2 linked regions of the Homo sapiens genome follow. The protein of the gene in region 2 interacts with the protein of the main gene of each other region in a pairwise test. Each region holds a gene or a part of one and is shown on either strand. Other genes may lie near its edges.

Evidence for each region. The genes of interacting proteins can lie anywhere in the genome.
Region 1: the proteins of CCDC24 (region 2) and CHURC1-FNTB interact in binary tests that used the Homo sapiens proteins (3 or more experiments, as listed by UniProt).

The regions. Positions count from the first base shown.
Region 1 is NC_000014.9:64,912,599-64,916,347, reverse strand, and holds the start of CHURC1-FNTB (CHURC1-FNTB protein), read right to left. Parts: upstream 1,988-3,749; 5' UTR 1,934-1,987; coding exon 1,814-1,933; intron 1-1,813. Other genes in the region: CHURC1 (protein Churchill), read right to left, coding at 1,814-1,852. UniProt on the Homo sapiens protein: Essential subunit of the farnesyltransferase complex. Catalyzes the transfer of a farnesyl moiety from farnesyl diphosphate to a cysteine at the fourth position from the C-terminus of several proteins having the C-terminal sequence Cys-aliphatic-aliphatic-X.
Region 2 is NC_000001.11:43,989,303-43,993,051, reverse strand, and holds the start of CCDC24 (coiled-coil domain-containing protein 24), read right to left. Parts: upstream 1,454-3,749; 5' UTR 1,306-1,453; intron 1,227-1,305; exon of another isoform or gene 1,206-1,226; 5' UTR 1,174-1,205; coding exon 1,048-1,173; intron 841-1,047; coding exon 665-840; coding exon of another isoform or gene 626-664; intron 530-625; coding exon 413-529; intron 1-412. Other genes in the region: B4GALT2 (beta-1,4-galactosyltransferase 2), read right to left, coding at 2,604-2,754.

The DNA of each region.
Region 1 (3,749 bases), on a different chromosome or scaffold from region 2:
ACCCGGGAAGACTTTTTCTCATGTGACCCTTCTTGATCACACCCTAATCCCTTAGGAGTAACCACTATCTCGACTTAACAGTAATTGTATACGTTCCTTACAGTTTTACCACCCAGGTACATCCTTGAATAATATATTTTGGTTTGCCTCTTTTTGAATTATACTTTATGTGTTCTTTCATCAACACTATTTGTAAGACTTTTCAGGCTGCTGTGTAATTCTAGTTTGGTTTCACGGCTATAATTCAGGGTTTCTCTACCTCCACACTATTGACATTGGGAGTGATACTTTGTTGTGGTGGCTGTCCCATGTATTGCTGGATGTTTAGCGGCATCCCTTGCATCACCCATTAGCAGTCAGTAGTACTTCCCCTTTTGACACCCAAAAAATGTCTCTGGATATTGCCAAATGTCTCCTAAGAGCCAAAAATCACTCCTGGTAGAGAACTACTGCTCTAATTCATTCACTTCCATTCCTCATTCATTAATGGTGTTCCATTCTAATGAATGTATCAGTTACTTTTCCAATCTACTACAAAAATAATGCTGTTATGAACACTTATTTATAAAAGTCTTCAGAAGCATATACACATGCATTTTTCTAGAATGGGAATCACTGGGTCATGTCTGTATTTTATAAGGCTCACCCGCTTTTTCAAAGTAGTTGTACTACAGGAGAATTCATACTGTTATACATGCTACTCAAAAGCCTAAGTATTACCCATAAGATACTAAGACATAAGGAACTACAGAGACTTTCTCCCTCCTTCCCAACCAATGCACAAATTCCATTTCTGTAATTTTCCCCCATCCTCCAGCTCCTCACCTTCTTTTCTACCCTAATTACAACTGTCCTTCAAGTCTTAGATGATGTCCACCTTTTCTCAGGGGAGAACAGCACTATCCCCTATTGCCCTCCCCTTTCCCTAAACTTGAATAGCATTTCTGAACTGAGCTACTCATTTTTTGTTAGTCACATACTCCCCAAAACTGTAAGCTGTTAGGCAGCACCAAAGGTGCCTTTTAATTTCTTCTCTGAAACAAATAATCCAGCTGGACGTGGTGGCTCATGCCAGTAATCCCAGCACTTTCGGAGGCCAAGGCGGGAGGATCACTTGATCCCAGGAATTTGAGACCAGCCTGGGCAACAGCAGCACCCTGTCTCAAAGAGAGGAGAAATAATCCCTTTCTGGCCTAGCAAAGTAATCTAACTACACATATATAAATGTTCAACAAGGATGCCTTGAATGAATGAGAATAGACAAGCTTTGCAAACTCCTGAACCTGAAAGTAACTGAGATTCAGAAGGCGGTAACAGGCAGGAAACCTAAATTCTAGTCCTGGCTCTCATCCATGCAACTAGAATGTGAACTTGGGCAAGTGATTTCCCCTCTCTGGGCATCGGTTTCTTCATCTGCAAAAGTGTTAGAACAGATGACCACAGAGGTCCCCTCCAGCGCTAGAATTCGGTAAGAAAATTGTACTTCATCAAATCGAGCTTGAGGATGAGACCGGAAGTGGGGGTGGGGGAGTCCCTCGGTTGTCGACGGGGGTTGTGGTGGTGGTGGGGTTCCTCTGTTGCTCCTTGGAGCTCAAGAGAACGGCCACTACAACTGAGGTCAGCCGCCAGGGCGGGTACCAGAGGTGCAGACCGCCACAGGCCATCCCTGGTGTGCCTAAATACCGCTACTGGGTCACCGGGACCGGCAGTGCGGCCGAGTCCGCCCCACGTACGGCCTCTCTGGGAAGGCCAGCCTTGGATATGAGACACCTCGGGGGCCGCCCGCGGGCCAAGGGAGCGCCCAGTCGCTCACCCGGTTGGGATATTCCTTCTCCACACAGTCGCCACACATCGCGACGCAGTCAACAGGGAATGTCCTCCAACGCTTCCGGGAAGACGAAACCTCGCGAGAACTGAGATACGGTTGCCGCATGCGCCCAAGTACTCGACTCCTGGGTATTCCGTCTCGGGAACCGAGCCGAAGTCTCCGCCCCTTAGCAACTGTTGTCAAGGCAGGGCACAGTCTCCTTGGCACCGTGCGTGGGCAAAGGGTGGGGCTTCAGAAACCTTTGGAGACAGACGAAGAAATCTTGTGCGCTAACAGATGTGACGGGAAGGGAAAGGGATCTTGGGCTGAGCGAAGTTCTCACAGACACCTTCCTGAGCTTAGGCTGACAAGAAAGGCAAATCACGACACACAAGAAAGGGAATTATTTCTCGCTACCGCATATACAAATCTGAAATGTTAATGAATACATTTCTGTACCATTTCTTAAGGCAATGAGAGTGAATAAGAGACCAGATCTCAGCAGGTGAATAAACAGTAACCGAAGTGTTTGGGAAGAGACACTCAGAGTGCTGCAGAAAATCTCCTAAAAAAACACTTAAAATATTAGTAATAATTGGTCATTCCAGAGTCCTCTGGAGGACATAGCAACGAGGAACGTATTTCTATCTCTCTCAGGTGTCACAGAAGCACCTCAGTGGCGGGCAAGCACTATGTAAATAGAAAAATGGCCAGGTCATCAGCCATCCCATTACTGGGTATATACCCAAAGGATTATAAATCATGCTGCTATAAAGACACATGCACATGTATGTTTATTGTGGCACTATTCAGAATACCAAAGACTTGGAACCAATGCAAATGTCCATCAATGATAGACTGGATTAAGAAAATGTGGCACATATATACCATGGAATACTATGCAGCCATAAAAAAGGATGAGTTCATGTCCTTTGTAGGGACACGGATGAAGCTGGAAACCGTCATTCTGAGCAAACTATCGCAAGGACAGAAAACCAAACACCGCATGTTCTCACTCATAGGTGGGAATTGAACAATGAGAACACTTGGACACAGGGTGGGGAACACCACACACCGGGGCCTGTCGTGGGGTGGGGGGAGGGGGGAGGGATAGCATTAGGAGATATACTTAATGTAAATGACGAGTTAATGTGTGCAGCACACCAACATGGCATATCTATACATAGGTAACAAATCTGCACGTTGTGCACATGTACCCTAGAACTTAAAGTATATTAAAAATAAATAGATTTCAAAAATTATCTAATTGAATTGACTGCAGATATTTTGATTTCAGATTTGCACATCCATTTATAAATGACCTATTGGTTCACAGATTAAAAAACCAATAAACATATGTGCTTCCAAGAAAAGAAAGAAAGAAAGAAAAATGGCCAGGTCAGTTGTTCCTGCATCATTTCCCAATCCTGTGGGTCTCAAAATGCTTGTGCTTGTTGCCCCGCCTCATCCTTTCTCTCTGTATTGAAAGCATCTTATTTATTCGCAACGACCTAATTAACTTGCAGACGAATCTCCGAAGTTTGTCTCTGTTTCTGAACAATGCGTCTTTATCACACTCCTCTACCCCAATGGGAACATCAACATCCTCCCTCAGCCCTGCTTTATTGCTGTCATGTCAGGGAAGAAAGATTGGGGAGCCTGGGAGACTCTGGGATCCAGATTCCTTAAAGAAGAGATTAATAACCATTTCAAAGCACACCAGTTTAAATGGGTTTGCTAATATGGGAATTATTTTTCCACGGAAGCACTGAAGTTGTAACCTTTAGTATTTCAACTTCTAGTAAGTATCTGCAACTGTTATTAAAAATCATAGGTGTGCTAAGAAACACTGCAAGAACTAGAGCCATCAGAGTTTACCTTATTCTTAGAATAATTATAATACCTCCCATTTGTATGACATTTTCAACCTTTCAAAAGTGTC
Region 2 (3,749 bases):
AGTCCCAGCTGTAAATACCATTTGTGACCATCCTCTTCAGCTCTCCCTGCCTCCCTAGCCCAGCCCTCACTCCTGTTCTCTAGGCCAGAGGAACAACCGCCTGCTGGACATGGCTTCCTTTCTTCCCTCTTCCTACAAAGCTCTTCTCTTTCATCTCCCTGAAAACTGCTCCTCATACTACAACACGCAGATCAAACCACTTTCTCCAGGAAGCTTTGCCTGTCCCCAGGCTAGGCAGGTGTTTCCTCTGGGTTTCAGTAGCCCTCATGGGCTGATAATCTCTATCACAAGTGGCGGTGGAAGTGCCCAGCCCGTGACTGGAATCTCCTGCATGGAGCCAGGTGCAACCCACCAGTGGGCTAGGGCCCTCTGCCAAGCAGGGACAGATCCCTCTCTCCTACCATCACCTTACCTGGGCCCACCACCTCTCATCTGGAATATCTCCTGTTCTGGCAAATCACACCTGGGCTCCTCCAAGGCAAAGTGCAGGACCCTGGGGCTATACTGGACCCAAGCTTGGGCCTGGTCCCTGCAGAAGGTGCACAGGAAGGAAGCTGAGAGGCTCCTTTCTGGAAACCACAGAAAAGGCAACCCTGGCTCCTTGTTAGGGGCAGCGCTAGCCCACCTGGTATCTAGGGAAAGGGCCCAGGCCTGAGGCTCCCACCTGCCCTCACAGATGGCTTTGTGGCGGAGACCCTGGAGCAACTGCCGGAGCTCCTGGCGCAAGAGGTCCTTTAGGAGAGGCGGTGGTGCCAGAAGAGAAGAGGGGTCAGAGATGGGGCGGGAGCTGGGGGCTTGAGAGGATCGAGCCTCTTGGAGCAGTGCCCGTAACATCGCCACCTGCAAGGAGAGCTGGGATACCTTGCGACTGGGGAGGGGAGTGTCCGGAATGGTGGGGGCTGGGGGAGTGAGGGAGAGGGCGGAGTCAAAGGGGAGACCAGGATAGGATCTCGGGAGTTACCCGGCAGGGCCAGGGACCCGCAGAGGTGGGAAATCACCCGAGTCGTGGGGCAGGCCAGGGGCGTGGCCCACCTTCCCTCTCCCCACCTCCGCCCGCAGCTCCAGGCTCAGGTCCACCGCCGCCTCCCCCAGAATCCTCTTCACTTCGCGTCGCTCCCGGAGCGGAACGTGCTCCTCCACCAGCTCCCACAGCGAGGGGGAGTGCCGGAGCATGACCCACCGACGCCGCCGTCCCCGGCTCGGACCTACGGGCCGCAGGTCAGAGTGCGGGAGGTACCGCGGGCCCGCCGGCAACGCTCACCAAACCCCGCCCCTCTATGGGCCCCGCCCTCTCCCAAGCCCCACCCGTGCTCTGCCGCTGGTCCCCTCGGCTGGGATTGCCCGTTCCGGAACTGCCAGTCCTTGGCGCTCTCTTCTGCCCGGCTTTTGGCCGACTCGGATGCCGGGGGCCCAGAAACCAGGCAGTGGGAACCAGGGCCCTAGCCCCACCTCTTCCGCGTGGCCATCACCCGGGAAACCACGCCGCGACTCTAGGGCCCCGCCCCCTCCCGTGTTTGGTCCGGCGGGCGGCGCGTGCCGGCTGGGAGTTCAGACTCACCTCGGCGCTCCACCGAGCCCTGACCCAAGCACTTTGGGCTCGGCCCTGGGCACCTTTAGGCCTCAGGGAACGTGTTAAGACCTGAGAAATCTGGGTCCACGGGTTTATTACTTCGTCGCCTCCACTGTCCCGGAAGCAGTGCAAGGACAAACTTCCCCTTAAGGCCAGTGAAAGCCTAGGGAGTGGCAGCGCTTGGAGAACCAGGATGGCCCGGGTCAGGTTTACTTGTTGGGCCAGGTTCCCCAAGTGCCCTTCCACCACAACACACTCAGGGTAACCACGTTCAGGGACCCGACCCCCACCCCCAAACAGACAAGGGAGCTGCTCCATTCACGTTTTTTACTAAAGCACCCACACAAGTTTCTGTGCAATGTACAAACACAAGCCGGCCCTGGGGCTCCTGCCTCCTCTCTCAGACAGGGAGGCGGGAACCAGACTTACTGATCCAAGCCCCACCTGCCTCCCATGCAAAGGCCAACCCCAAGATCCCAGGCAGCGACACAGCATCCCCTCTGGTCCCCTCCTGGGGCTGCTCCTCAGCAGGGGGCGCACCAAAGCTTGCCCCCTACAATGTTGAATGAAAAAGGTTTCCCCTCCCCTGGGAGCAAGGGGGTTCCCAAGAGCTGAGAATTCCCCCTGGAAGAGACACTGCCCCCTAGACATACCTCCCACCCTTCCAGGCCCTAGGGGACTCAAGGGGGGGAAACTGAGGCACAGAGAGGTGGAGTGACCTAGCCCAGGCCACTCTGCGAGGCAGTGCAGGGGCTGGCCCGACCCTGACAGTGACTGGGGCTGGGCTAGGGGGAGGGGGTCGGGAAGGAGGGTTGACTCCAAAGAGGGCCACACTTGAAGAGCCTGCCCAGGCAGGAGGCCCCCCAAAGTGGGTTCTGAAACTTCCAGGTGTAGCTAGGGGGCCTAGTGAAGACCCTTGGAAAACAGAGCCCAGTCTCAGTCCTGGAGGTCCTCCACAGAGCAGCTGCCAGCCAGGCTGTGGTCAGTCCTCTGGCAGGCAATCTTCGGCACCGAGAGCCTCTGTCCATTAGTGTCAGCCCCGAGGGGGCCACGACGGAGGCCGCCCAATGTCCACTGTGATATTGGTGAAGAGTGGTTGCCGAGACACCTCCAAGACCTGGTACCGCACTGACCCAATGCCGTCCCGCTTCATGGTCAGCTTCGTGTTTTGAATCTTGGTAAACCTAGATAGGATGGAAATGGTCCACATCAGGGCTAACAACTGTAAACTAAAAATAAAATCCTACACCCCCCAACCAACTAAATGGACCCCCTTTTGGCCAAGGGGACCCCAGGGAACCTTAAAAACAGGGTTTCCAGCTATGATGGGAAGGGACGTCAAACATGCCATGTTATGCCCACGCCCTTTTGCAGCTTAGACACAACAAATGACCAGCATTAACGTCAAAGCAGAGATCACAAGACTGACAGAATGCATTGTTTGTGTCAATAAGATACCTAATTATAAATAGGATCTAAGGCCATGCCAGGCAAGGGTTAAGTCTTGCACCTCTGCACTTAAAGAAGAGACTATGCTCTAACTGCCGCGAGGATTTTCTTTTTCTGTAGCAGCTAAACAAGTACAGGACTTGAGATAACCAATATTAAAACAATTTGTATAATGTGGTAATATAAATAATAGAAAAAAATTTGCAGCTCACCCACTGCCAGATGCTGACCCCTACGCCCCTGTTCCACAAGCCATAATTATAGCTTTGGTGGGACAAGAGACTGATCTCAGTAACTTTCTCCTGATAAGACCATCGGCCATGGACTGGTTCTAGCCAGCTTACAGAGGCTGCGCACTTGAGTGCTTTTGTCTTTTTGACGTATGGGGCCTAACTGCGATATATTTAAATATTAAGTCTCCACCCCAAGGTGAACATGGATGGTATATAACATGCATGTTTGTTCGATATGCATATGTCAGGACCCCCTCCGTAAATATTCATAGCTCCTCCAGTAACCTGTTGACCAATCCATTCAACTAAAATTCCTATCTCACTCCTCCCTCCCTCAAAGTGCCTGTTAAGGCTTTGGCTGGAGGCTCTGCTTCCTAGCCAGTGGGATGGCCAGCCTGCAGGTTGTAACCCTTTATAAAAGAGAAATAAAGTCTCCTTTTCAAATTTATTGATCTAGTGATTTTTTTTTTTTTTTTTTTGAGACAGAGTACAATGGC